Regions from separate parts of the Homo sapiens genome. Here regions 1, 2 and 4 are each reported to be linked to region 3. The links are microRNA targets in miRTarBase. Many come from high-throughput screens and were not tested one by one. Region 3 holds a microRNA gene; each other region holds the end of a gene's coding sequence.
Evidence for each region. Region 3 holds the annotated microRNA hsa-miR-34b-5p (UAGGCAGUGUCAUUAGCUGAUUG, at 1,477-1,499, opposite strand). A microRNA usually pairs through its seed, bases 2 to 8, with sites in the 3' UTR of a target mRNA and lowers its output. Matches are read on the target gene's strand: a 7mer-m8 pairs with bases 2 to 8, a 7mer-A1 pairs with bases 2 to 7 and ends in A, and an 8mer does both.

Region 1: the mRNA of CAV1 is a reported target of hsa-miR-34b-5p. Seed matches in the 3' UTR shown: 8mer at 3,730-3,737.
Region 2: miRTarBase lists TNFAIP2 as a target of hsa-miR-34b-5p. Seed matches in the 3' UTR shown: 7mer-A1 at 4,993-4,999 and 7mer-m8 at 3,227-3,233.
Region 4: miRTarBase lists ZDHHC18 as a target of hsa-miR-34b-5p. Seed matches in the 3' UTR shown: 7mer-m8 at 5,341-5,347.

What each region holds. Positions count from the first base shown.
Region 1 is chr7:116,555,920-116,561,784 of GRCh38, forward strand. CAV1 (caveolin 1) reads left to right here. Exons shown (of 3, transcript NM_001753.5): 3 at 3,027-5,260. The coding sequence ends at 3,368. Among named protein-coding and RNA genes, the nearest start is that of CAV1, 34 kb to the left of the region's middle.
Region 2 is chr14:103,134,485-103,140,482 of GRCh38, reverse strand. It overlaps TNFAIP2 (TNF alpha induced protein 2), which reads right to left. Exons shown (of 12, transcript NM_006291.4): 12 at 3,044-5,264. The coding sequence ends at 5,123. It also overlaps the pseudogene NDUFB4P11. Among named protein-coding and RNA genes, the nearest start is that of TNFAIP2, 14 kb to the right of the region's middle. RefSeq lists enhancers at 37-86, 117-166, 4,670-5,171.
Region 3 is chr11:111,508,451-111,514,448 of GRCh38, reverse strand. MIR34B (microRNA 34b) reads right to left here and starts at 1,511; the gene lies at 1,428-1,511. BTG4 (BTG anti-proliferation factor 4) reads left to right here and starts at 2,063. Exons shown (of 5, transcript NM_001367975.1): 1 at 2,063-2,268. MIR34BHG (MIR34B and MIR34C host gene) reads right to left here and starts at 3,847. Exons shown (of 2, transcript NR_147706.1): 1 at 3,577-3,847; 2 at 561-1,431. It overlaps MIR34C (microRNA 34c), which reads right to left and starts at 1,010; the gene lies at 934-1,010. RefSeq lists an enhancer at 3,208-4,407.
Region 4 is chr1:26,850,677-26,856,251 of GRCh38, forward strand. ZDHHC18 (zDHHC palmitoyltransferase 18) reads left to right here. Exons shown (of 8, transcript NM_032283.3): 6 at 453-555; 7 at 2,077-2,189; 8 at 3,050-5,575. The coding sequence ends at 3,167. Among named protein-coding and RNA genes, the nearest start is that of SFN, 9.7 kb to the right of the region's middle. RefSeq lists an enhancer at 2,556-3,057 and silencers at 2,672-2,731, 4,304-4,476.

The DNA.
Region 1 (5,865 bases), not on the chromosome of region 3:
GGCTGTACTTTTAGTTTTCTTTAAAACTGCCTTAAATTTCAAAGACTAAAGCAGCAATAACTAACTGAATATATTTATATAACATGTTATTTTTGTCATGTTGCTTTCCACCCCTGGAGACCTGCTCTAAATTCACTTGGACGTTTGAGGATAAATCATGCTCACTAGCAGTTTCTGAAAATGCAGTTTCACTGAAAATGCAGGCATCCAGAAATTTAGTAAGCAACTTAAAAGAAAGTGTAAGAATCTCCTATGTATTCATTGAAAAATAATTTGAATTTATGCTTAGAAAAATAGAATTATTATTAAGAAATCTTACACACTCATGTTTTTAAATATCTTCACTAAGGACCAATTGTGTATATGGTGTAACACTGTCCTCAAAGAACATGCCGGGAGAATTGTTGCAGTTACCAGAGGGTTAAATTTGGCAAACTCTTTTTTATTAACGTGCCTTTTAATTATGAAATAGCATACTCACCTTAGATAAAATTTGAAAACCATTTTTGTAAAGTGGTACAATATTGAAGAAAGTTGATAACTTTCAGACCAGATTTAAGCCTCAAATCTACCTCTCTTTTACCTGGACAACTCATTAGCATTTCTGAACCTCACATTTTTTCTATAAAGTGAGAATACTATATTATAGAGTTGTTGTCAGTTAAATGAGAACAGTGTCTGATCACAACTAGTCAACAAATGTTCACAACTCTTCCCCTCCTAGGAAAAGAATCTCAAGGCAGACCTGCTTCGGGTCTGCTCTGTAAAGAGGTAGGAATCCTCTGCTCCCGGTAAATTGCTTCCTAACCTTCTTTGGTAATAGACTATTTTTTAATAAAGGTGATGGATCATTTCCCATTATACACTCAAAATGTGTGTCCATTTCAGGGCAGTCATGGATGACCATTGCCCATCTTTTGACCCCAGATTAAGAACACCTGCTGTAGTATTTTAATTCTGCCTTCAAATCCTCTTACAAAACAAAGACATCTTTAAAAAATAAAATTCTTTAGGTGTCTTGCAGTTGAATGCAGGAAAACCAGAGCCCCTTATTTTTGATAGTTTTGGGAAGAATGCAGTGTCAGAACACAAACCCATAATAGACAAATAATTTGCACAGAAACTTCATAAAAGTATTGACCTGATTTGCCATGTATTTGCCACCTTTTAAAACACACAACTAAATGTTTACCCTGTGTCTAGATCCAAATGGGTGAAGAAAAATGAGTGACAATACATCTACTTAAGCTCACTTACATAATTGTGGCCATGCCGTTTTTTTCACATTACATTATTAGAACATTGGACAATAAGTCAAGAAACAGAATGTTCTACAAAATAAACTTTAAAAATTGGTAAGCATCATGTGCTTTTTCCAGAAGACATTTTATTTTGTTGAATCAAAGGTGGCTCTTTGGCACTGAGTAGCTCCGTGGAGTCATGGCAGTCCTCATTCCCTAATCCTGAGCCTGCCTGAGTCGCTGCTGTCAGTCATCCACTTGTTGGGATTTCAAACTGCATTAAATCCCCTCCTATAGCTGTCACTGCCAAGCAGTTGCACTGGCTCTGTCCTACCTTTCTGTTGGTAATTCTGTTTTTAATCCTGTGCTTCAGTGTAGTTTATATAAATCTTTACAGAGGGATAAAACTTCCTGTAATTAATTGTTTGGGTGAACATGTACCTGGGAGAGCTATTGGGAAAGGGGCCAAATTTGCATTCCAGCTCCTTTCATCCCCACCCTTGAGCTAACCAAGTCCTGTGGATTCTTCCCTTAGCATCTCTGGAACCTTCTTTTCTTTTCTTTTTTTTATGACCACCTTTCCAGTCCTGGCCCTTCAAACTTGAGTGACAGCAACAGTCTCCCTGCCTTGAGTCTCTTTCCTCCTTCTCCCAGTGTGCATACGGTTGTCAAACTCATCTTGATAAACTACTGCATCGATTGTGGCTACACTCCCCTGCTCCCACATCTTCCATAGACCCCACTGTCTGTAAAATAATATTCAGTCTGGCCTCAACCTGTCTTTCCAGCCTCGGTGACACAGGTCTATTCTGCCTGAGACACTTACTATGACACCCTTGCTTGTTCCTGGGGCTTTGACACATTTCCAACGTCCCATTGTTCTTCCTCTCCAAATCAGCCAATTGCCCAAGCCCTGCTCAAATCTCCCACCTCATGAAGCCTTCTTGATGCCTCCCAGCACACCATGATCTAATTTCCTGAAGTAATTATGCTAATTGGGCATTTGAAGAATTGTTAACCGATTATCAACTAACTGCCCCTTAACATTGCATGTGTAGTTGTCTTCAAAGGCAGTTAAATTATGTCATGTTCCTTACATTGTACTGAGTGCCTCGTATCCTTATCCATGTTTGGGGGTTTTACTTTAAGTCAAGAAATTTAATCACATCCATTTGGTTTTCTCTAGAGCTGTAGTTCTCAACCTTTTGTGTGGTAGAGAAACACCTAGAGAACATGTTTAAAAATATCCTGGGTTCCACCCTTGAGAGATAATAAGGTCCAAGGGGAACCCAAATATCTGTGTTTCAGGTCAGCTTATTGGCTCATCCTATTATACCAACTCCTCAGAAGGCCAAGGTGGGTGGATTCCTTGATCTCAGGCGTTCAAGACCAGCCTGGGCAATATCGTGAGACTCCATCTCTTAAAAAAAAAAAAAAAAAGGATTAGCCAAGTGTGGTGGCATGAACCTGTGGTCCCAGCTACTTAAGAGGCTGAGGCAGACAGATTGCTTGAGCCTGGGAAGTCGAAGCTGCAGTGAGCCATGATCATGCCACTGCACTCCAGCCTGGGTGACAGAGCAAGACCCTGTCTCAAAAAAATAAAAATGAAAAAAATCTGTGTTCCCAAGTTCCAAGTGATGCTGATGCTGCTGGTTGCCTTTAAGCATCTCACAAAGAACGAACTCATAAATGCTAATACAGTATATGTCTATGGATACTGAATAGTGGGTTTTTTTTCTCTTTTCTTCTATTCTGTGCTCATGTTGTGTCACTTCTTCCTTTTAGATTGACTTTGAAGATGTGATTGCAGAACCAGAAGGGACACACAGTTTTGACGGCATTTGGAAGGCCAGCTTCACCACCTTCACTGTGACGAAATACTGGTTTTACCGCTTGCTGTCTGCCCTCTTTGGCATCCCGATGGCACTCATCTGGGGCATTTACTTCGCCATTCTCTCTTTCCTGCACATCTGGGCAGTTGTACCATGCATTAAGAGCTTCCTGATTGAGATTCAGTGCATCAGCCGTGTCTATTCCATCTACGTCCACACCGTCTGTGACCCACTCTTTGAAGCTGTTGGGAAAATATTCAGCAATGTCCGCATCAACTTGCAGAAAGAAATATAAATGACATTTCAAGGATAGAAGTATACCTGATTTTTTTTCCTTTTAATTTTCCTGGTGCCAATTTCAAGTTCCAAGTTGCTAATACAGCAACAATTTATGAATTGAATTATCTTGGTTGAAAATAAAAAGATCACTTTCTCAGTTTTCATAAGTATTATGTCTCTTCTGAGCTATTTCATCTATTTTTGGCAGTCTGAATTTTTAAAACCCATTTAAATTTTTTTCCTTACCTTTTTATTTGCATGTGGATCAACCATCGCTTTATTGGCTGAGATATGAACATATTGTTGAAAGGTAATTTGAGAGAAATATGAAGAACTGAGGAGGAAAAAAAAAAAAAAGAAAAGAACCAACAACCTCAACTGCCTACTCCAAAATGTTGGTCATTTTATGTTAAGGGAAGAATTCCAGGGTATGGCCATGGAGTGTACAAGTATGTGGGCAGATTTTCAGCAAACTCTTTTCCCACTGTTTAAGGAGTTAGTGGATTACTGCCATTCACTTCATAATCCAGTAGGATCCAGTGATCCTTACAAGTTAGAAAACATAATCTTCTGCCTTCTCATGATCCAACTAATGCCTTACTCTTCTTGAAATTTTAACCTATGATATTTTCTGTGCCTGAATATTTGTTATGTAGATAACAAGACCTCAGTGCCTTCCTGTTTTTCACATTTTCCTTTTCAAATAGGGTCTAACTCAGCAACTCGCTTTAGGTCAGCAGCCTCCCTGAAGACCAAAATTAGAATATCCATGACCTAGTTTTCCATGCGTGTTTCTGACTCTGAGCTACAGAGTCTGGTGAAGCTCACTTCTGGGCTTCATCTGGCAACATCTTTATCCGTAGTGGGTATGGTTGACACTAGCCCAATGAAATGAATTAAAGTGGACCAATAGGGCTGAGCTCTCTGTGGGCTGGCAGTCCTGGAAGCCAGCTTTCCCTGCCTCTCATCAACTGAATGAGGTCAGCATGTCTATTCAGCTTCGTTTATTTTCAAGAATAATCACGCTTTCCTGAATCCAAACTAATCCATCACCGGGGTGGTTTAGTGGCTCAACATTGTGTTCCCATTTCAGCTGATCAGTGGGCCTCCAAGGAGGGGCTGTAAAATGGAGGCCATTGTGTGAGCCTATCAGAGTTGCTGCAAACCTGACCCCTGCTCAGTAAAGCACTTGCAACCGTCTGTTATGCTGTGACACATGGCCCCTCCCCCTGCCAGGAGCTTTGGACCTAATCCAAGCATCCCTTTGCCCAGAAAGAAGATGGGGGAGGAGGCAGTAATAAAAAGATTGAAGTATTTTGCTGGAATAAGTTCAAATTCTTCTGAACTCAAACTGAGGAATTTCACCTGTAAACCTGAGTCGTACAGAAAGCTGCCTGGTATATCCAAAAGCTTTTTATTCCTCCTGCTCATATTGTGATTCTGCCTTTGGGGACTTTTCTTAAACCTTCAGTTATGATTTTTTTTTCATACACTTATTGGAACTCTGCTTGATTTTTGCCTCTTCCAGTCTTCCTGACACTTTAATTACCAACCTGTTACCTACTTTGACTTTTTGCATTTAAAACAGACACTGGCATGGATATAGTTTTACTTTTAAACTGTGTACATAACTGAAAATGTGCTATACTGCATACTTTTTAAATGTAAAGATATTTTTATCTTTATATGAAGAAAATCACTTAGGAAATGGCTTTGTGATTCAATCTGTAAACTGTGTATTCCAAGACATGTCTGTTCTACATAGATGCTTAGTCCCTCATGCAAATCAATTACTGGTCCAAAAGATTGCTGAAATTTTATATGCTTACTGATATATTTTACAATTTTTTATCATGCATGTCCTGTAAAGGTTACAAGCCTGCACAATAAAAATGTTTAACGGTTAAACAGTCAGCTTTATTATTTTTTCCCAAAACAGGTGTTTATGTGTCAGAGTCTGTGTATGTCTATGTATTTGTATGTAATGAGCATGTGCATAGTGTGTGTATGTGTTTGTATGTGTTTGTGGGGGGTAATGGTCTCCCACTTTAAAATTATTACAAAGTCACTTAGGATATTTCTGCTAAGGTCATCACCATTTATGAGTTGCTTCAGATAAAAGTTATAATTAATAACAAAGTTTTTTTAGCAATTTGCCCAATGTTTTATATGTCATCTAATTTGAGCCCCCAGCAAGCTTGTGTGATGGATATTAATACTCTTAACTTAGCGAAAGACACAATTTGCATTCGGGGCCAATGCCTTCAACTTTGCCATGCCTTAACTGGGTTTTAAAGAGGTATATTGCAGTCTCAATTTATGTTTGTTGCTTGGCTAAGTTTACCTTCAGGACTCCTATATTAGGGTTCTCCAGAGAAACAAAACCAATAGGAGATAGTTGGAGATAGATAGATAGATGATAGATGATAGATAGATAGATGATAGATAGATAGATAGATAGACAGATGATAGATAGATGATAGATAGATGATAGATACATAGATAGATAGAAT
Region 2 (5,998 bases), not on the chromosome of region 3:
CTGCAGTGATTTCCCTGGTGTCTGCCGATGGGCATTTAGGGAGTTTCCAGTATGTTGCTACTGTAACTGAAGTGACTAGTCTGGCACTCAAGTTGCTTTGCATAGCTGGTAGAGCATGGATAAGGTACATTCCTGGAAGGAGAATGGCTGCCTCACAGGTTCCTGCATTTGTCAGCCTGACCCGGAAGCCCAAATCACCCTCCACAGGGGCTGTGCAAAATGATGCCCCCAAAGCAGTGAGCGAGAGAGAGGGCCTGGCGGCCGGCAGCCTCGCACACAAAGTGTTGTCACTCACCGGGGTATTGGTCACTCTAATGAACCACATGCCCATTCTGCAGACATCTCAAACTTTAAAAAAAAAAAAGATTAATAGAAGATTTATTTAGCAAAAATACATATAGCCATTATTGCAAGACTTAAATGAGATGTTAAATGTTCAACCCAATTTTCTTTCCTGGATAAGTTTTTCTTTCATATCCCTGTCAGTTTTGAAAACATAATACCAGAAGAAGGGGGGCCCAATTCCACAGAGAGCTCCCAAGAGTGAGTTTCTGGGAGTGAGTCTGAAGTTGAGATAAACCTTTGCTGATCTTGCTTACGTTCAATGCATCTGGGCAGCGTCTTTGATGAGCCCTGGCGGTTAGGCTGGTGGCACTGAAGCAGGCCTCCAGGGTCTCCTGTTTAAGCAGGATTTTAAGGCCAACCCTGCGGCTTGCGCCTGCTGGGTTTCTGGAGATGTGTCATATTCGGCTGGGTTGAGGGTCCAGGGCAGAGTGGCCAGGCATGAGAGAAAATACTTTGGGTCAACACCTGTGAAAAGAAGGAAAAAATAAAAATAAAAAAAACACCAGAAGAATACTTTGGGAACAACATCGTGGTGACACAGGGCACAACTGCGAGTGCGGAGGGACCTCTCCCCCTGAACTTGACCAAGCGCTTCCTCAGCCCTTTCTCCCCTCCCAGGCCCTCCCTGTCCCTGGAAGCAGCCTGGTTCCCTCCCGGTCTCTTAGAAGCCCCTGGGCTGCTCTTTCCCTCAGCCCACCGAGAGCTCGCTCCATCTCACTGCACGAGGGGGCCCTCGCTGCCGCCCTCATCTCTCCCCTGGGGACCCCAGCGCCCCCGAAGGGCAGAGGGGTCTTTCCAAGCCATAAATCCCATGAGTTGAAACTCGCGTCTCCAGCCCCTTCCAGCCCCGCTCCCCAGCTGGAAGGAGCCCACTTACCGGCCCCCTCCTTCCTCCTGCGGAGTCTCCTGTCCAGGATCCCTTTTCCCCAGTCCTGCCGTCTTTCTTTGCCTGAAACCTGGAATTCCTCCCCGTTCCCGCCCGCCGGCCTCCGCAACCTCCTCCCTCCCCCGCAGCGCCCAGCCCGGGTCTGCTCCAGGCACCTCCTCAAGACCGGGCCTCCAGCGACTGTCCCTTTGAGCCGCCCTTTCACCCGCAGGCACCCCCGGCCCGTCCCCGCGCCTGCACTCAAGCTGCTTGTTTGCTTGCTCCTGGCTCCTGCAGGGAGCGTCAGCCCCCGGGCTGCTTCCCACTGCTGGAGGCCGGGGGCGCCCGGTGTTCCGCGGGGGCTGCGGCCTCCCCGCTCCACCCCTGCTCACAGGAGCCTGGGCAGCCCGGGGCCCGTCCTTGCACAAAGGCACCAGGCCTGGCCCAGGCCCCGCTCCGCCCGCCCTGTCCCCGCGCTGGGGGACTCGCTCCCCTCCGCCGGGCAGATCCTCCTCTCCGGGGGATTTTCCTGGAGAAGTTACTGGTGCAGATCCAACAGCTGGCGGGACAGTGACCCGGAAGGCCCCCGCCCCGAAAAGCAGGAACAGCAGGAACCTCCAAGGCGCCGCCCGCACCCTCTTCCTCCTCGCCTGGGGCCTCGCGCCCGGAGCCCGCCCCTCTGCCAGGGGTGGACGCAGCCCGGGGAGGGGGGTCCACCTGGCCCCAGGTCCCGCCGCGCTCCGACGACTCGGCCCGCCCTGGCCGCCGCGAGGCTGGGGGTCACTTTGGGACCTAAGTCCGCCCCCGTGGGAGAATGTGTGCCAGGGCCCACTGACAGCTTCCATCGGGGCTCAGGCGCCATCTCTCCCCACGTTTGCCCAGGGTCAGGGGGCCATGCAGGGGAGAGTCGCGCTGCCCCCACTTCCCCCTGACCCTGTGCTCCGAGGAGAGGAACGGGAACTCGCCCGCCCAAGGCCCACGCTCCCCACGTGGCTCAACCAGGCCAGGACCTCGCAGCCACATGGACCGGCGGGTCCAGGAGCCGGGCAGAGGGTCTCCGTGCCAAGCCGCACTGCCCCTGGCCCTCGTCTCCCTCCTTTCTCTCACTGCACGGTGGCCTCATGCCATCCGCTTTGGCCCCAAGAATGGAACTCAGGAGAAAGGGCCTGCCCTCCCCCACCCCCAGCTCCGGGCTGTCCCAGGCCCTGCTGAAGCCCACACCCCTCTTCAGGTGCACACGGCTCCCCTTGGGGCCCTCCCCGGCCTCTGTGCAACGTTCATCAAGGTACCCTTCTTCCCTTCCAGGGACTCTGCTCCTTCCCAAATTCCAGGCCAGATTGGCTGCGGAGAGGCCCACCCTTCCGTGGCAGCTGAGCCCGTCTCTGAATACAAACCAGACCTCCTGTGTCCACAGCTGTAGCTTTCAGGTCAATGCCAGCATGGTAAGAGTCAGTTCCCACTCTGTGTCCCGTGCATGCGGTTGAAATGGCTGCCCCGTGTCCACCCCACCCTCTTCCTCAGTAAAGGACGGTGGAGGAAGCCCCAAAGGGTCACAGTCCCCTTTTTACAGATGAGGAAACTGAGGCACGGAAGGGTGAAGTGACTGTCCATGCCCTACAGGCAGACACTTCCAAAGCTCCTGCTCACAGTGAGGGGATGGTGGGCCATCTCCTGCCTGGACCACATGAGGTGCTCTGGGGGCTGGGACAGGCTGGGGATTGACACAGAACCTAGGTAGGTTTGCCCGGACCCCTAGAGGCTCAGAAAGCTGCTAAGGCTGCCTGGCTGGGCCCCCCATCATTGTGCAGCTCCCAAAATAAATCACTCCACAGCCACTTTTGAATTCTGTTTTATATCAAGCTATAAAAACCTGGATCCTGTTCAACATACATACAAAAGCAGTACTCTAAAAAATAATTATTATTATATTAACAATATCAAACACGCTAACTCCTACACACGTACAAAGACCTTGGGCATCCTTTATACCGGCCACTTCCTGGCCACAGCTTTGTAAGGCAGTACCTGGGAAAAGGGGACGGACCCAAGAGAGCCGGCCCCAAATCCTGACTCAGCACTGCAGAGGCATCAGCCGGGCTGAGTCATGCCTGAGTCCGAAGGGCCCCCTCTCAGGCTGAGAAGGAACTTTCAGGCCCAGGGAGGAGCAGAGCCTTAGGGGGAGCACATGCCGAGCAGGAAAACGAGCTCACATTTTCCTGGGGTAGAGCGAGGTGCCCGGCAGGGCAGGGGATGAACGGAGGGTGCGGTGGGCAGAATAACGGCCTCCCAAAGATGTCCACGTGACAGTCCCCAGAGCCTGTGACTATGTTAGGTTACACAGCCAGTGGGAACTAAAGTTGCAGATGGAACTAAGGTGGCTAATCAGCTGACCTGAAAATAGAAAGACGACCTGGGTTCTCTGGGTAGGCGCAATGTGATCATAAGCGTCCTTAAAAGCGGTAGAGCAGGCCGGGTACAGTGACTCATGCCTATAATCCCAGCACTTTAGGAGGCTAAGGCTACAAGATCCCTTGAGCCCAGGAGTTCCAGACAAGCCTAGGCAACAGAATGAGACCCTGTATCCACAAAAAATATGTAGCTGGGCGTGGGGGATTGTCTCAGGGGACTGAGACAAGAGGATCACTTGAACCAGGAGGTCCAGGCTGCAGTGAGCCTTGATGCCATGACCAGGCCACTGCACTCCAGCCTGGGCAACACAGCAAGACCCTGTCTCAAAAAAAAAAAAAAAAAAGTGGTGGAGGGAGGCAGGAGAGGGGAGGCCTCAATGAGGTGACGGGAAAAAGATTCAACTACCCACAGCTGGCTCTGAAGATGGAGGAGCCTGAAGTCAAGAATTACGGTCAGCCTCTAAAAATGAAAAGGCCAGAAATGAATTCTCCCCTAGAGCCTCCAGAAGGAGTGCAGGACTGCCGACACCCAGATTTGAGCCCCGGGTCAGCCTTCTGACCCGCAGAACTGGAAGACCTCGTTTTGATCCACGAAGTTTGTGGAAACCTGTCACGGCAATAGGAAACAAATACAGAGGCCAAAGGGTCAACAGTGAGAGGTCAAGCTTGCCCTGCCCCTGCCCAGACCTCAGCCAGACTTCTGGGTGGCAGGGCCCACGGTGGCACCCCCAGGGCCTGTCCCTGCCTTGGGGAAGGGGGAGCCTGAGAGGACCCAGGAGGTCTTGGGCCCTTCGGTAGTAGACACCAAGCCCTCGGGGGACCACCCTCTAGTTGAGGCCTTGGGGGATGAAGAGGGAGGGCTCAGGGCCCCATTGCAGGGCCAGCCTGTAGGGGCCGTGGGGCCACCTGGATGTGACGTCTAATGCTGGCGGTGCTCACAGCTCGCCACAGGACCCTAAAAGCCCCTGCCAGACGAGAGCTCATCTTTTCCTTCTTTCTCTTCCAGTTCTGTCTTCCATTCCACCATTGCTGAATCCCGCTCACGGCGGCCCTGGGCTGCAGAGGGCAGATGGGTGAGGCTCGGCCCCTGTCTCCAGAGAGCTGAAGAGGGCCCTCGGCCCCACCCACGAGGAGGACAGTCATGAGGCCGACTGTGGAGGGGCTCTGGACAGAGGTGTCCGGGGATCCCTGAGCCTGGCTGCACTCTCCCTCCTGGTTCTTTCCTTGCGTGCACACGATCAGCTATCGTTTACAAAGAGTCCTTGGTGTTGCCTGGTTGGCTGCCCAGGATGGGAGCTCCTGCCCCCATCGGACATGTAAACAAACCAAGGTCTGTCCAGTTCCAGCTGACAGGGCCTGCACCTCCGCCAGGGCTAGGCAGAAGTAGCATCAGAGCACAGGAGACCCGGGAGGAACCGAGAACCAGCGCTGCTCTTAACAGCTCCCAGCGGGGTGTGCCCAAGGCTTGCTGGGCACTCACAGGCAGGTCAGGCCACAGGAAAAGCTAACCAACCTTTATAAGGGAAAATAGGGGCCGGGAGGGCTCCTGCGCCCCCATGCTGACGTCCAAGATGCTCCGGATGCGCTTGACCTCACTGTTGGATAGGTTCCCCTTGATGGCCAGGATAGCGCTCAGGTGGCCTTTGCTGGCAAAGAGAGCATCCTGTCAGCCCAGCCTGTCACCCACACCCCTACTCACCAGCTCCCTGCACTCCCGGCCAGTGCCACAGGGCCCGACAGCCAACGCCCGGCCCACGAGGGGGCTGCACTTCACTCTCCCTCACCCATGCCCTCCACCTGATGGTCCCAAGAGCAGCCATGCCCCAGCCTGCTTCAGGCCTCCGCACCGGCTGTTCCCCTGCAATGTTCTTCCCAGGCCCTGAGATGACCGCCTCTTCCCACCCCTTAGGTCTCCGCTAAGATGTCCACCCCCAAAAGGCTTTCTTGTCTCTAAAGTCGGCACCTCCTATCATTCACAACCTTGGTTAAACCCTATTTACAACTTGTAATTGTCTGTTTCTTTGCCTGATTATGTCATTAGTATTGCTGGCCCTCAACAGAATGAGCTACTTAAGGGAGGACTGAGACCTGGCTTCCCTTGTACTTCATTGCATCCTGGTAACTAGAACAGAGGCTGACACCTAGCAGACTTCTCCATAATTGTTGGTGGCATAGGTAGATGGATGGTGGGTGGGTGAGCAGATGGATGAGAGCTAGATGGGTGGAGGGATGGGAGCATGGATGAGTGAGTAGATGCATGGGTGGATGGGTGGGTGGGTGAGTGGTTGAGTGGATGGATAGCTAAATGGGTGGAGGGGTGGATGGATGAGTAGATGGGTGGATGGGTGCTTACATGGGTAGGTGGATGAATAGATGGATG
Region 3 (5,998 bases):
TTTAAATTCCTCAGCCCCATTGCCCCAATCCCCACTTCCAAACCAGATTGCCAGGGACAGCACCTGCTAGGTGGAAGTTCTGAGAACGTTGCGCTGGAGAATTCACGCCTGAAAGCCTAGCCCTTGGGAGCTAGAGGCCTGAACTGGGCGGATACGTGCCCATGTGTACAGTTTCTGTGATTTTAAAATTCTGAATCCTTTAAATCTTAGGAAACAAGCTGGATTTAAAGTGTAAGTGCATTTACTAATCACTCCCACTAAAAGTTGCATAGACTCCAACAGTTGTAAATGATTACTTAAAAGAAGGGATACATCTTAATGAGTGAACAGAGTCTCTTCATGGAAAAAAGAAGTATGAAAAATTTTGTTAATGTATTTCTTATAAAAGTATTAACAAGTCTGTGTGTATGAGTAGCTTTCCCGGGAGATTTTTGTCATGGCAGGAACAACTTAACCACTTCATTGATAGAAAAGTTAAGATTACTGTGGCAGGAACTGAGATGGACATCATAAAGTCAATTTAGCAAAGGAAATGGACACATAGCAATAACCACAATTTATGTCTTTATGGCACTTTATTCTTTCGAAATATTACTAACAATATTACTTTCAAAATATTACTAACAATATAGTCTCAAGAAGTTAATAATCACATGTTCATATAATAACATACATCAGTCAGCTAAGAAAAAAATCATATTCCCCCTTATATCTAAAATTTTGGTTAAGAGCCTGAAGGAATATTGAAAAAAAAACAAAACAAAACCCCACATACATACACATTACATACATTGTAAACTTAGTAGCTGAAATGTTGATTTTTTTCTTTTGGCTGAGCAATTAATAGGCAATGGATGAAATCAGCATTTTCCAACACCCCTCTTCCCCACGCACATTGATGATGCACAGGCAGCTCATTTGGACGAATTCCCAAATCTTTTTACCTGGCCGTGTGGTTAGTGATTGGTACTATTAGCAATCAGCTAACTACACTGCCTAGTAACTAGACTCATAGAAAAAATTGCAGTCTCAAGTTGGTACCCCAACACGTTGTGACAGGCAGGCAATTCATTGGTTGAGTTGGAGCTCAACTGAGTTGCTAGCTTGGTGAATACTCTACTAGACGATGGCAAATAGACACAGTGAATCACAGCATACAGTATTAACCGTTACATGGATGGAGGGGCTTCACCTCCAGGGATTTTGCTTTCCTGGCATGAGACTGTTTCATCTTCTGTGACTCCTAGAGAGAGCTAACAGTTTAACTGTATCTGGAGAAACCGCGGGTTTCCTCGCACTTGCAGCGGGCGCTCGCGGGGCAGGCTGCGCAGGACCCACGCCGACGCCGCGCTTCTCAGGCATCTTCTCTCGAAGGCTGCGGGCTGCCCGAGCCGGCGTCTTCTTCCCGGCCGGGCGGCGGTGATGCTGTGCCTTGTTTTGATGGCAGTGGAGTTAGTGATTGTAACCACCACAGTACAATCAGCTAATGACACTGCCTACAAACCGAGCACCGGGCACCCGCGGCTGCAGCTCCCGGACGGTCCGCAGCGCCGACGCGGGGTCGGGGCCCGCCTCGGACCCCATTTCACCGGGGGACGCCCTACCATGGCTGGGCGCAAGCGGCCCCCGAGGACACCCCCGGGCCCAGCGGGACCCCCGCCGGCCTCGCAGCGCACAACACGCGTAGCTGGGCCAGCGGGCGGCGCTGCCGGGGAGGACCCGCGCCCTCCCAGGCCGGGAGCCGCGCCCCGACCCCCATGACCCCCAGGAGTGCCAGGCCTCCCCTTCCCGCAGCCTCCCGCTCCTCTCAGGGCCCTCCCGCTCAGGTTCCCCTCGCTTTTCCTTTCCCCTTCGCCTCCTCGGCCCGGGCTCCCACTTCCTTCACGCCAGGCTTCAGTTCCCAGCCCCAAACCCTAGAGCTGGCTCTCTCGACCCCGTGCGCCCCGCCGCTCTGAGCGGCCGAGTGACTGTGGCGGGGGCGACCAACCGTCCTTGGAACCCCGCGGGCCGAGGGGCGGGGCGGGCGCGAGACGGGGCGGGTGGGGGAGGGGATGGGGGGGGGGAGGAGGCTGAGAGAAAGCGCTGTGGGCGGTCCCTGAAGGGCCTCCAAGGGAGACGCCTAGAAGATGGAGGCCCAGATTCTTGAGACGTTTCTCTTTCTGATCTAGCAGGAGGGACAAAGAGCTCCTCCACTCCCTCATTCCCCAAGAAGGCCCCCAGCCTACCCAGTTTCCGTGACCATTCCGCCCTGGGAAAGCGGCTTCCCAGGTACCTCAAATTATAGGTTTGAATTTTCCAAATGGAGGTGGGCTTGGGTAGCCTCTGACATATGGGAGGATGGCTTGGAGAGTCTCATCTGCACCTCTGTGCTCTGTTGGGGACTTGGCCTTATACTCTTAGAGGGCCATGCAGTGATGTGAAGCCTGGGCCTTCTAGTCAAATAGTGAGCCAGGCAGCTTGTTAGTTACATCAAATCGTGGTCCTCTTGAGATCAAGGCCATACCATTCAAGACAGTATATATATAATAAATTACTAAACTAGGGACTATTTAGAATAGTAGAAACTATTTGTATCAGAAATAGAAGGGAGGTCCTCAATGAGAGCTGTAATAGGTCAAAGAAGGTTCCCAGAGGAGGTGAGACTTGAGTAGATCCTTGATGCACGAGTACATTTGGATATTCAGGGTTAGGGCTGTGGATGCCAGAAAAACAGTATCTTGTGACAGTTGGGCAAAAGGGACAGTTACAGAGGACTTCTGGGAGATCTCTGCTAATAACTTTCCTTCCCCTCCTTTGCCTTTAATGAATTAATCAGGAGAGGATAAGGAATGTTCTCTTTATCCTCACCTTGTGAAATTCAGCTGGAAGCAGCCTCCCCTAGAAATATGGTCTTCATGCATCCAGTATAGAGCACCCATTGCTGACACCAAAGGCTTAGTTCTAAATTAGTTTCTGCAAAAGAAAACTTCCCACCTATAGATTGATTCCCTAAAACCAGCAAATGGTCTCATAGATGCCACAAGTAACATGAACAGGGGCAGGTCATCTGGATCATTCAATACAAACTACAAACTCACACTATTAAAACAACTAAAGAACTGCCCAAGGATGTTTGAATAAGTTATAGCATTTTCTTTGCATATGAAAGACAGCACTTTTTTTCCAAATGCATACTTTGTTCTGTACACCCCATAGTGAAGGGAAAGAAACCAAAATACAAAATATGTAGCACAGAAAATGTTAATTGTAAAAATTAACTCGTAGAATTAAATTGTGAAAGACAAGCCATCTACAATAACTGTATTTTGTATTCATCTTATCTTTGTGAGGGGCACGGTGTTTTAGCACACATTACATAAATGACTCACATTCACCTAAATATACATACATGAAACTAGGAGCAAAATAGTCTTCATTCCATTAACAATATGCAGACTTAGAGAAATCTTGGTTAGGAGATAGTTATAAAAATGATTCTCTTCTACCAAATTGTTAGTCACTTTTACCCAATACTATATCGAACACTTCTTCCCAACTGATGTTTTATGATTATTAGTTGCATCTTAAATATCTTACCTGAGCTGGATTGCTGCCATCCAAGGCAATGGTTGGGTCAGATGCCTTGAAAAGTAGGTTTCTACAGACTTTTCTTCAAAAGTAATAAAAAATAAAACTCATATGTAAAAGTCATGAAGATGCATTGCCTACTGAAATAACTTTTTAAAATGAGTTTATTTTCTATGTAGTACAACTAAAAATTTAAATAACGACAAAAAATATGTGTGGCCTAGTTCTGTTGAAAAAAAAAAAAGAATGCTTGTTCTTAGGGTTGCTGTTGATTTGGCCTGCAGTTACTAGAGAAACTCCAAGGATCTCATTCCCTTTATGGTTCATGTCTAGGCATGCCTGGAGACCAGGGAGACCCATGATTTAATCTAAGTAAGAATGCTTGTGGTGTTTTAAATGCCCACACAGAGGATTGCATTTGTTTTAGACAGTACAAGGAAGGCACCTTTCAGGGGAATTGTTTACTGTTTTAATTTCTGGGCTTTTGGTGATTAGGGAGATGGAAAAGGAGCTATCAGGAGAGACAAGGTTGATGACTAGGAGGAAGCCAAGAAGAGTGTAGAAAACAAATACCTTCTGCTTTAGCTTTGGCACATTTATATTGACTTAATTTACCACTTCTAGATACAAGACTAGATTGATGGGAATTGGGAATTAGAAAAGGTGGAGACAGGCCGGGGGTTGTGGCTCACACCTGTAATCCCAGCACTTTGGGAGGTCAAGGCGGGCGGATCACGAGGTCAAGAGATAGAGACCATCCTGGCCAACATGGTGAAACCCTGTCTCTACTAAAAATACAAAAATCAGCTGGGCGTGGTGGTGCGCGCCTGTAGTTCCAGCTACTTGGAAGGCTGAGGTGGGAGAATAGCTTGAACCCGGGAGGCAGAGGTTGCAGTGAGCCGAGATCGTGCCACTGCACTCCAGCCTGGGTGACAGAGCAAGACTCCATCTCAAAAAAAAAAAAAAAAAAGAAAAAAGAAAAAAGAAAAAAAAAGATGGAGACAATTGGAGACAACATATCCCTCCCTTCAATACATACAAACTCACCATCTCCCACAGCTTTTGAAGGATGTTGTTGGAAGAGGAAGAAATGAAGAATTAGACTAATTAGAAATTACTGGATTTTAGCAGCTTCTTTATAAACCTGTTTTGTTTTTGTTTTTGTTTTTGTTTTTGTTTTTTTTTGAGATGGAGTTTTGCTCTTATTGCCCAAGCTGGAGTGCAGTGACGTGATCTTGGCTCACTGCAACCTCTGTCTCCTAGGTTCAAGCGATTCTTTTGCCTCATACTCCTGAGTAGCTGGGATTACAGGCGCCCACCACCATGCCTGGCTAATTTTTTGTATTTTTAGTAGAGATGGGGTTTCACTATGTTGGCCAGGCTGGTCTCGAACTCCTGACCTCAGGCGATCCACCGCACCCCCCTTGGCCTCTCACAGTGCTAGCATTACAGGAGTGAGCCACTGCACCTGGCCTAAACCTGTTTTTTTAAATGCATATTTACTCATAGGAAATATAAAACCATATCTTGGTTTATAGATCAATAAATGTCAGATTATTAAACTTCTTGATAGTATACCTAGAAACTAGTTTATATGTTGAAGCAAGACTAAATTGAAGTCAATTCAGTGCCTTTGAAGAACTAAAAATAATTGAATCTATTTATGGGAGAAGATTTTCTTTTGAGCTAAAATGAACTGCCAGCGGTTTTTATAATTCCATATTTCTAGTTTCATTTCATTGTACTCTCATTAGTAAGAGTGCACCAGATTCTTAATTAGCTTCTTGTTTATATTTATTGATTAATCAATACTGTTGCTTTCAGTATAAAATGTTAATTTATCTTTCAGGTAAATCATAAGCAGTCTAACAAAATAGTCTCTATAATTAAAGTTGCCGGAGCTCTTAGGTATGGCTTCAGTAGGAGCAAACAGGTTGCATATTTTCCATCTTTAGAGAACAATCTCTAAGGATTTATGTGGTCTAGTTGGTGAGATGGACAATGTGTGTATATATAGATAATTAATATGTTAATTATATTAGTATGTAATATGAATATATCTTAATATAACTTATAGTAATAGATTAAGAATTCATGTTTGTGTTATATATTCTATTTATATTATATATAATTATTTAATATCAAGATGGTTATATGAAAAAGTGCTTCAGGAATCCTGATGACTAATACAAACTTCATTATTGCCAACATTTAGGAAAAAGGAAAAGGAAAATTATCAAAGGTTAGGACACAGAGAAGGCTATATGGAAAAGATGAGCCTAGAAGCAAAAATACTAGAGATGAAGAGGGAATGTTTTGGTAGCAGGAGCAATTTGTGAAGGAAAAACACAAGCAAATTTATGGAGATTGTAATGTATAAGGCCAATTGGAAGAGCAATGAGTGTGTTCCCATTGGGGAAATAAGATTAAA
Region 4 (5,575 bases), not on the chromosome of region 3:
ATCCTCTAATCAGAAGGGAACAGCGTACAGCTCACATGTGTCCTCCAGAATCCAACATGCCAGCTCTTCTGTTCACACCCAGGCAAGAGCTGATCCTAAATGGGGCATTGTGGGGCCGGGGGTTCCTCGTCTTCAGGGGCCTGGAAAAGAGTATGTCCCTTAAGATGCCAAGCTCCCTGGACCGTGTCGTGCCCAAGGCTCTTTGTGATTGGAACCCTCAGTTTTCTCTGCCGTCCATCACCCTGACCTTGTCTGGCTCTTGAGTGGGGTCCTGACCCTTCCGAGGGGCCCAGGAGGTGATCCTGCTAAGAAGTGGGGACTGGGCCACAGGAAGGTTCCAAAACTTCTCAGCTCTCTGGGGAAACAGCTCCATGGAAGGATAGGTGAGACAGGCCAGGTGTGGCTGGGAGGCTCCCCACCCTCCACCCATTGAAGTCCTTAACTGCCCTCACCGTGCTGGAGTTGGTGATCTGCTTCTTCTCCATCTGGTCCATTCTGGGCCTCTCAGGGTTTCACACGTACCTCGTCGCCTCCAACCTGACTACTAATGAAGACGTGAGTAAACCTGGAGCCACCCCTCATTCTAGGGCAGCGCCCTCAGGAGGAGGCAGGGCTGAGGGAGCCTGGGGCAGCCAAGCACAGTCCTGACTCACGGACTGCTGGGATAATGCCTTTTAAGCAGCCAGATGCCTCCCAGTCATCTCAGCTTGGCCCTGGTGGGTCCGATGCAGGCTTCTGACACCTCCACATGCTTCATTCTCTCAGTGCAGGCTCCCAAGGTCCCAGGTTGCTTTTCTCCACAGCCCTGCAGGAGGCAGTACTCACACCACAGCACGCATGATGTTTGGCTGGCACATGACCGCTTACAGAATTCTTTCAGTTCCCGTCATTTCTTTGGGTCCTTTTGCCAAGCCTGAGGCAGAAAGGACAGGGATGTTTTTTCCCCATTCGATGACTGAGAGACATGTCCCATGTCTGAGAGGTCACACAGCTGGGAGGGGACAGAGCCAAGGTTGGTGCCCAGTCACAGGTATGCGCTCCCTCTTCCACACTGCCCCTGTCAGCAGCAAAGCCGTGACTATTCTCAAGGTGGCACTGGCCTGTCCTGGCTGCCCCTCTCAATATGCACGCCTGGGGGAGACAGGGCACAGGCCAGTGGGCTCCATTGACCTTCCCTGCCTGCCACCCTGCAGACTGCCATCAACAAGCATGTTTGATGTGCCCAGTCCTAGGCCAGACCTGACTTCTCCTCCCCATCCTCCAAACACTAAAAAGTAAATGAGAGCATCTGTTTCAGGGCCCACCATCTGATACTTACCAGCAACCCATCCTCCAACAGAAAATACATTCCCAGACCTCATCCTCTCATTCAGGGAAACAAAACTTCACACATGACAGGGCGTTGTGTGCCTGGTGATCAGTGAGAACAGAAATGCCATCAGCCAGTATCTCCCGCAGTAGCTTCTTGGGTGCCAGTTCTGCAGCACATTACCAGAGGTTAAAGAGAAAGGAGTGTGTGGCCAAATAAGTGTAGAAAACTCTAGGTTAAAGTCAAGGTATTCTTTATTGCTAAACTCTCCAGTGCCTTCCATAGCTGACTTCACAGAGCTAGAGAATCTGGCAAGAATTAATCTAATGCCCTAGCAATGTCATCTGAGAATTAGTATTATTTTCCCTGTTTTCCAAATGAGGACTCAGGCTCAGCGAAGTGGTGATCTGTCCAGGTAACGTAGCCAGTGAGTAGCAGGGCCGGGGCTCACAGGCAGGTCAGCCCTCACCCTGTGCCCCTGCGCTACCCTCCTTCAGAAGTGGCTGGCCGGAGAAGGGAGGAGTCATCCGAAACGTTTCCTCTGGATGCTTCTCTTGGGCTCTGCTCTGTCATCTCCTCTTTGGGGCCTCCTGATCTCTGCCAGGGGTCCCCCACATTCTCATTGAATGGCCCACATGAAAGACATGTCGCCTTCTGTAACCAGAATTGGTTTCGGAATTGTCCAGTTGTCCCCAGCCTCTAGACCTGCCTCCTAGAAAAGTGAAGCAAAAGGAGGTACTTGACCTAGGCCTCCTTCCTGCTTGCAGATCAAAGGCTCGTGGTCCAGCAAGAGGGGCGGTGAGGCCTCTGTCAACCCCTACAGCCATAAAAGTATTATCACCAACTGCTGTGCTGTGCTCTGTGGCCCCCTACCTCCCAGGTAAGTGAGCGGGGTGCGGAAGAGGGGTAACAGGGCCATGCCTGGCCAGTGATCAAAGTGTTCCTGGATATCAGCCGACCTCCCCCTACACCCTAGATGCCCTCCGTCCACTACCCCCTGGAGGGCATTTGTCATGTGACGGAATTCCATGGAGAATTGTTATTTAATCACGTGCTCATTGTAGAAAAAAAAAATTAAGTACAAAACGTAAAACAGAGGAGCATTGGATATGACATGTAATTCTACTCCCCGGGGGTAGCCACCATGACTGTTTCAGCCATGTTTGAATGACACTGCCCTTCCGGTTGCCCACTGCCTGGACTGGGTGGCGACTCCATCCTCTCCTGGCAGTAGGAACCCTGGGGACTCAGCCCTGCTGGGTCACTCCCTGTTCATCCTGACACCAGGGGGCACCAGAGTTCCAGAACGGGGATTACATTGCTGTGGGTACTGCTAAGACAAGTCATTCCCACACAGTCATGTCACCTACCCCACCCAGTATCCCTGTCACCCAGCCTGCCTAGAGGGGAAGGGAACATAGGAATTTCATAGTCATCAAATACCTATTCATCCTTGCTTTCCTCCCTCACCTGCAGCCTGGCTTCTTGGCAGCCAGACAGGTGGGCCAGTTGGAATTAATAGTGAATAAATTCTGTGGCCAAAAGCCAGGTGGCCAGAGGGCAGAGAGAGGCCTGCCAGAGGTAAGAGTCTTGGGCCCCCAGATGGGCAGCAGCTCTCCTTTCCTCAGCCTTTCTCAGCCTGGGCCTTTCCTTGGCTGAGATAGACTCTGCCGTCCAACCCCTGGCCTAGAGCCTCAGTGTTGGGCAGAGCCCTCATGTGTCTCCCTTGTGTTTTGGAAGCCTAATTGACCGGAGGGGATTTGTGCAGTCCGACACCGTGTTGCCCTCACCCATCAGAAGCGATGAGCCAGCCTGCAGAGCCAAGCCTGATGCCAGCATGGTAGGAGGCCACCCCTGACCACGGCTCAGTACTTGCCACCTGCTGGCCTGTCTGACCCTCCGCACTCACCTGCCGGGACCCTCCCTATTCCATCCAAGGGAAGCAGAACTGCCAAAGACTCAAGTCTTTTCATATTTATTTCCCATCCTGCGTGGCTTTCCCTGAACTGTTCCGTGGCTGTGCCCTCTGCTCCCCAAACCCAGGTTCCCACAGCCTTGGGCCCTAGGTACCCCAGCTGATCAGTGCCAGGAGAGACCAGAGCCTCTGGAGGCTACCCAGGGGACCACACCAAGTCCTTGCCTGTGCCGGGCGAGCCCTGTGTGAGTGAGGCTGTGAACTGAGCGTGAGGCCTCCCAGGTGGGGGAACTGCTTGGGCCTTGCTGAGCCAGGGTCCTCAGGGTGAAGCAGGACTGAGGAGTGGCCAGCTCTGGATAGCTGGCTGTGGAGAGGAAGCCTCCATGGGCTGCTTTGGTCTGTGGGCTCCTTCATTCCCTTGGTGATAATTTCCCTTTATTCTGTGGGATTTTTGGTGGGGTTTTCCCCCCTTTTTTATGGAGTTGGCCAATAGGATTGAGTTGGGGCTCCAGTAGAGAAGGCAGGGTTGGTGGTGGGTGGGGGCAGCCTGTATCAGACAAAGGTAAATCAGCCAGCCAGGCACCCACAGCCTCAGCTCCTGTGCAGTTCCTGGGCAGCACAGTGGAAGTGGGAGCCTGGTCCTTCCCCTGCCCATGGAGAGCTCTTTAAGGGATCCCAGCCTGCCCCTCCACTTCTCTCCCAAGCCAGGTCCCGGCATGGGTGGGTTATGCTCATGCTGGCAATACTTGAAACGGGTTTATTAATGCTGGGTATTTTGCACAATTTTATAGACCTCTTTTCTACATAGTCTTTTTTAAATGGAAGGAGAAAATGTCAGCCACATTACTGTCTGTGTAGTGCCAGGTGAAGGGTTATCAGAAGGCTGGTTGGTTTTAATAAGTTTATTCCAAGAGACCTTCTGGCTGGAATGAGTGAGAGTGTGTGTGCATGTGTGTGTGTGTTCATGTGTGCCCTGTATGAATGTGGCTGGCTCCCATATCCCCTGGGCTGCCCCCTGCCCCATCCCCTTTGAGTGTCAGAAGCACTCTGAGCCAAGGGGACAGGGGGCACGTGCACTGGTCACGAGAAAACCCTGGGCTCCCACTGGGGCTCAGCCCAGCCTCCTATCTTTCCTTCTTCTATGGACTTCAGACAGCCAGTGTCTGGGGACTCTGCCACTCTACCCCCAGCCCTACCCACCAGCCCCCAGGTGAGGCTTCCAGCTGGGACCTGCCCAGACAGGCTGAGCCTGGGCGTGGTGGGTGGGGTGATGGCTCTGGGGAGCGGCTGCCATCCTACAAGCCACACCCCCTCCTCTGAGCTCTGAATATGGGACCCAGTGCCAGGAGCTGGAAGACAAGGTGTTTCTGCCAAACGGGGACCTCCATCCAGAGAAAAGGAAGAAGGTGCAGGGTGGGCCAAGAGGCAAGTGAAGGTTGGCCTGAGTCTGGGCCGGAAACTCAGAGGATGTTTCTCCTCTGCTGGGAGCTGTAGTTTCTTATCAAAATAGATATTGTTCCACCATCCCCCTCCTTGGCCCTTCAAGTGGGCTGAAGCCCTTGGAAAGTGACATAGGAAGTCCCCAGATCTTGCCCTTCTCACTCCAGAGGCTAGTGGTCACAGACAGCTGGGAATGGCAGCCACAGAGGGTCCCCTCTGGGAGAAACAGCTTCACCCCAGCCTCAGGGCCCTGGGCCATCACTGCAGTGGCCCTGGGAGGTGAGGAAGAAGCTGGCTAGAGGAGGGGGCTCCCACCTACCTTTTATTTAAGCCAGTATTCTTTGTTCCTGCTTGTAATAAAACTTCAGTTTATAAGAGTTGCTTTGCTTTGGTTTGGTTTTTGTTTGCTTTTCCTTTGCTGAGGCCCCAACTGGGAGCCCTCTGTTCTTTCAGACAAATTTGGTTCTTTCCTGGGGAGACTGTGAGAAGGCAGGCAGCCCAGTGATCTGGCTACATTTTCCCTCACCTGGCTGGAGCTCTGTCCGCTGGAGGAAGAGCAGAGAGGGCTGCGGCTGAGCCCCCATGGGCACGTGAAAAGAGGCCATCCTGTCCCCTCTTTGTCCCCTCCACCTTCCCCTGCCTCAGGGGCTTGGAGACCCCCAAATTCTTCTTCCCTACTGCCTTTCCACTCCGATCCCCAATGAGTGCCCAGCTAAGAAAATGTTTGAGACAGTAGATTCCAGTTTGAGAGCCGGAGCTTCCCTGGCTACCACCTCCAACCTGGGCACCAGGGCCCAGCCAGACAACTCATAACACTGGCCCACCTCTCTGGTATCTCCCTCAGGAGGACACCTGTCAGGATTTTGCCATCTCCTGCACAGCCTGAGGGGAGCTAACAGGCCTCTTTGCAG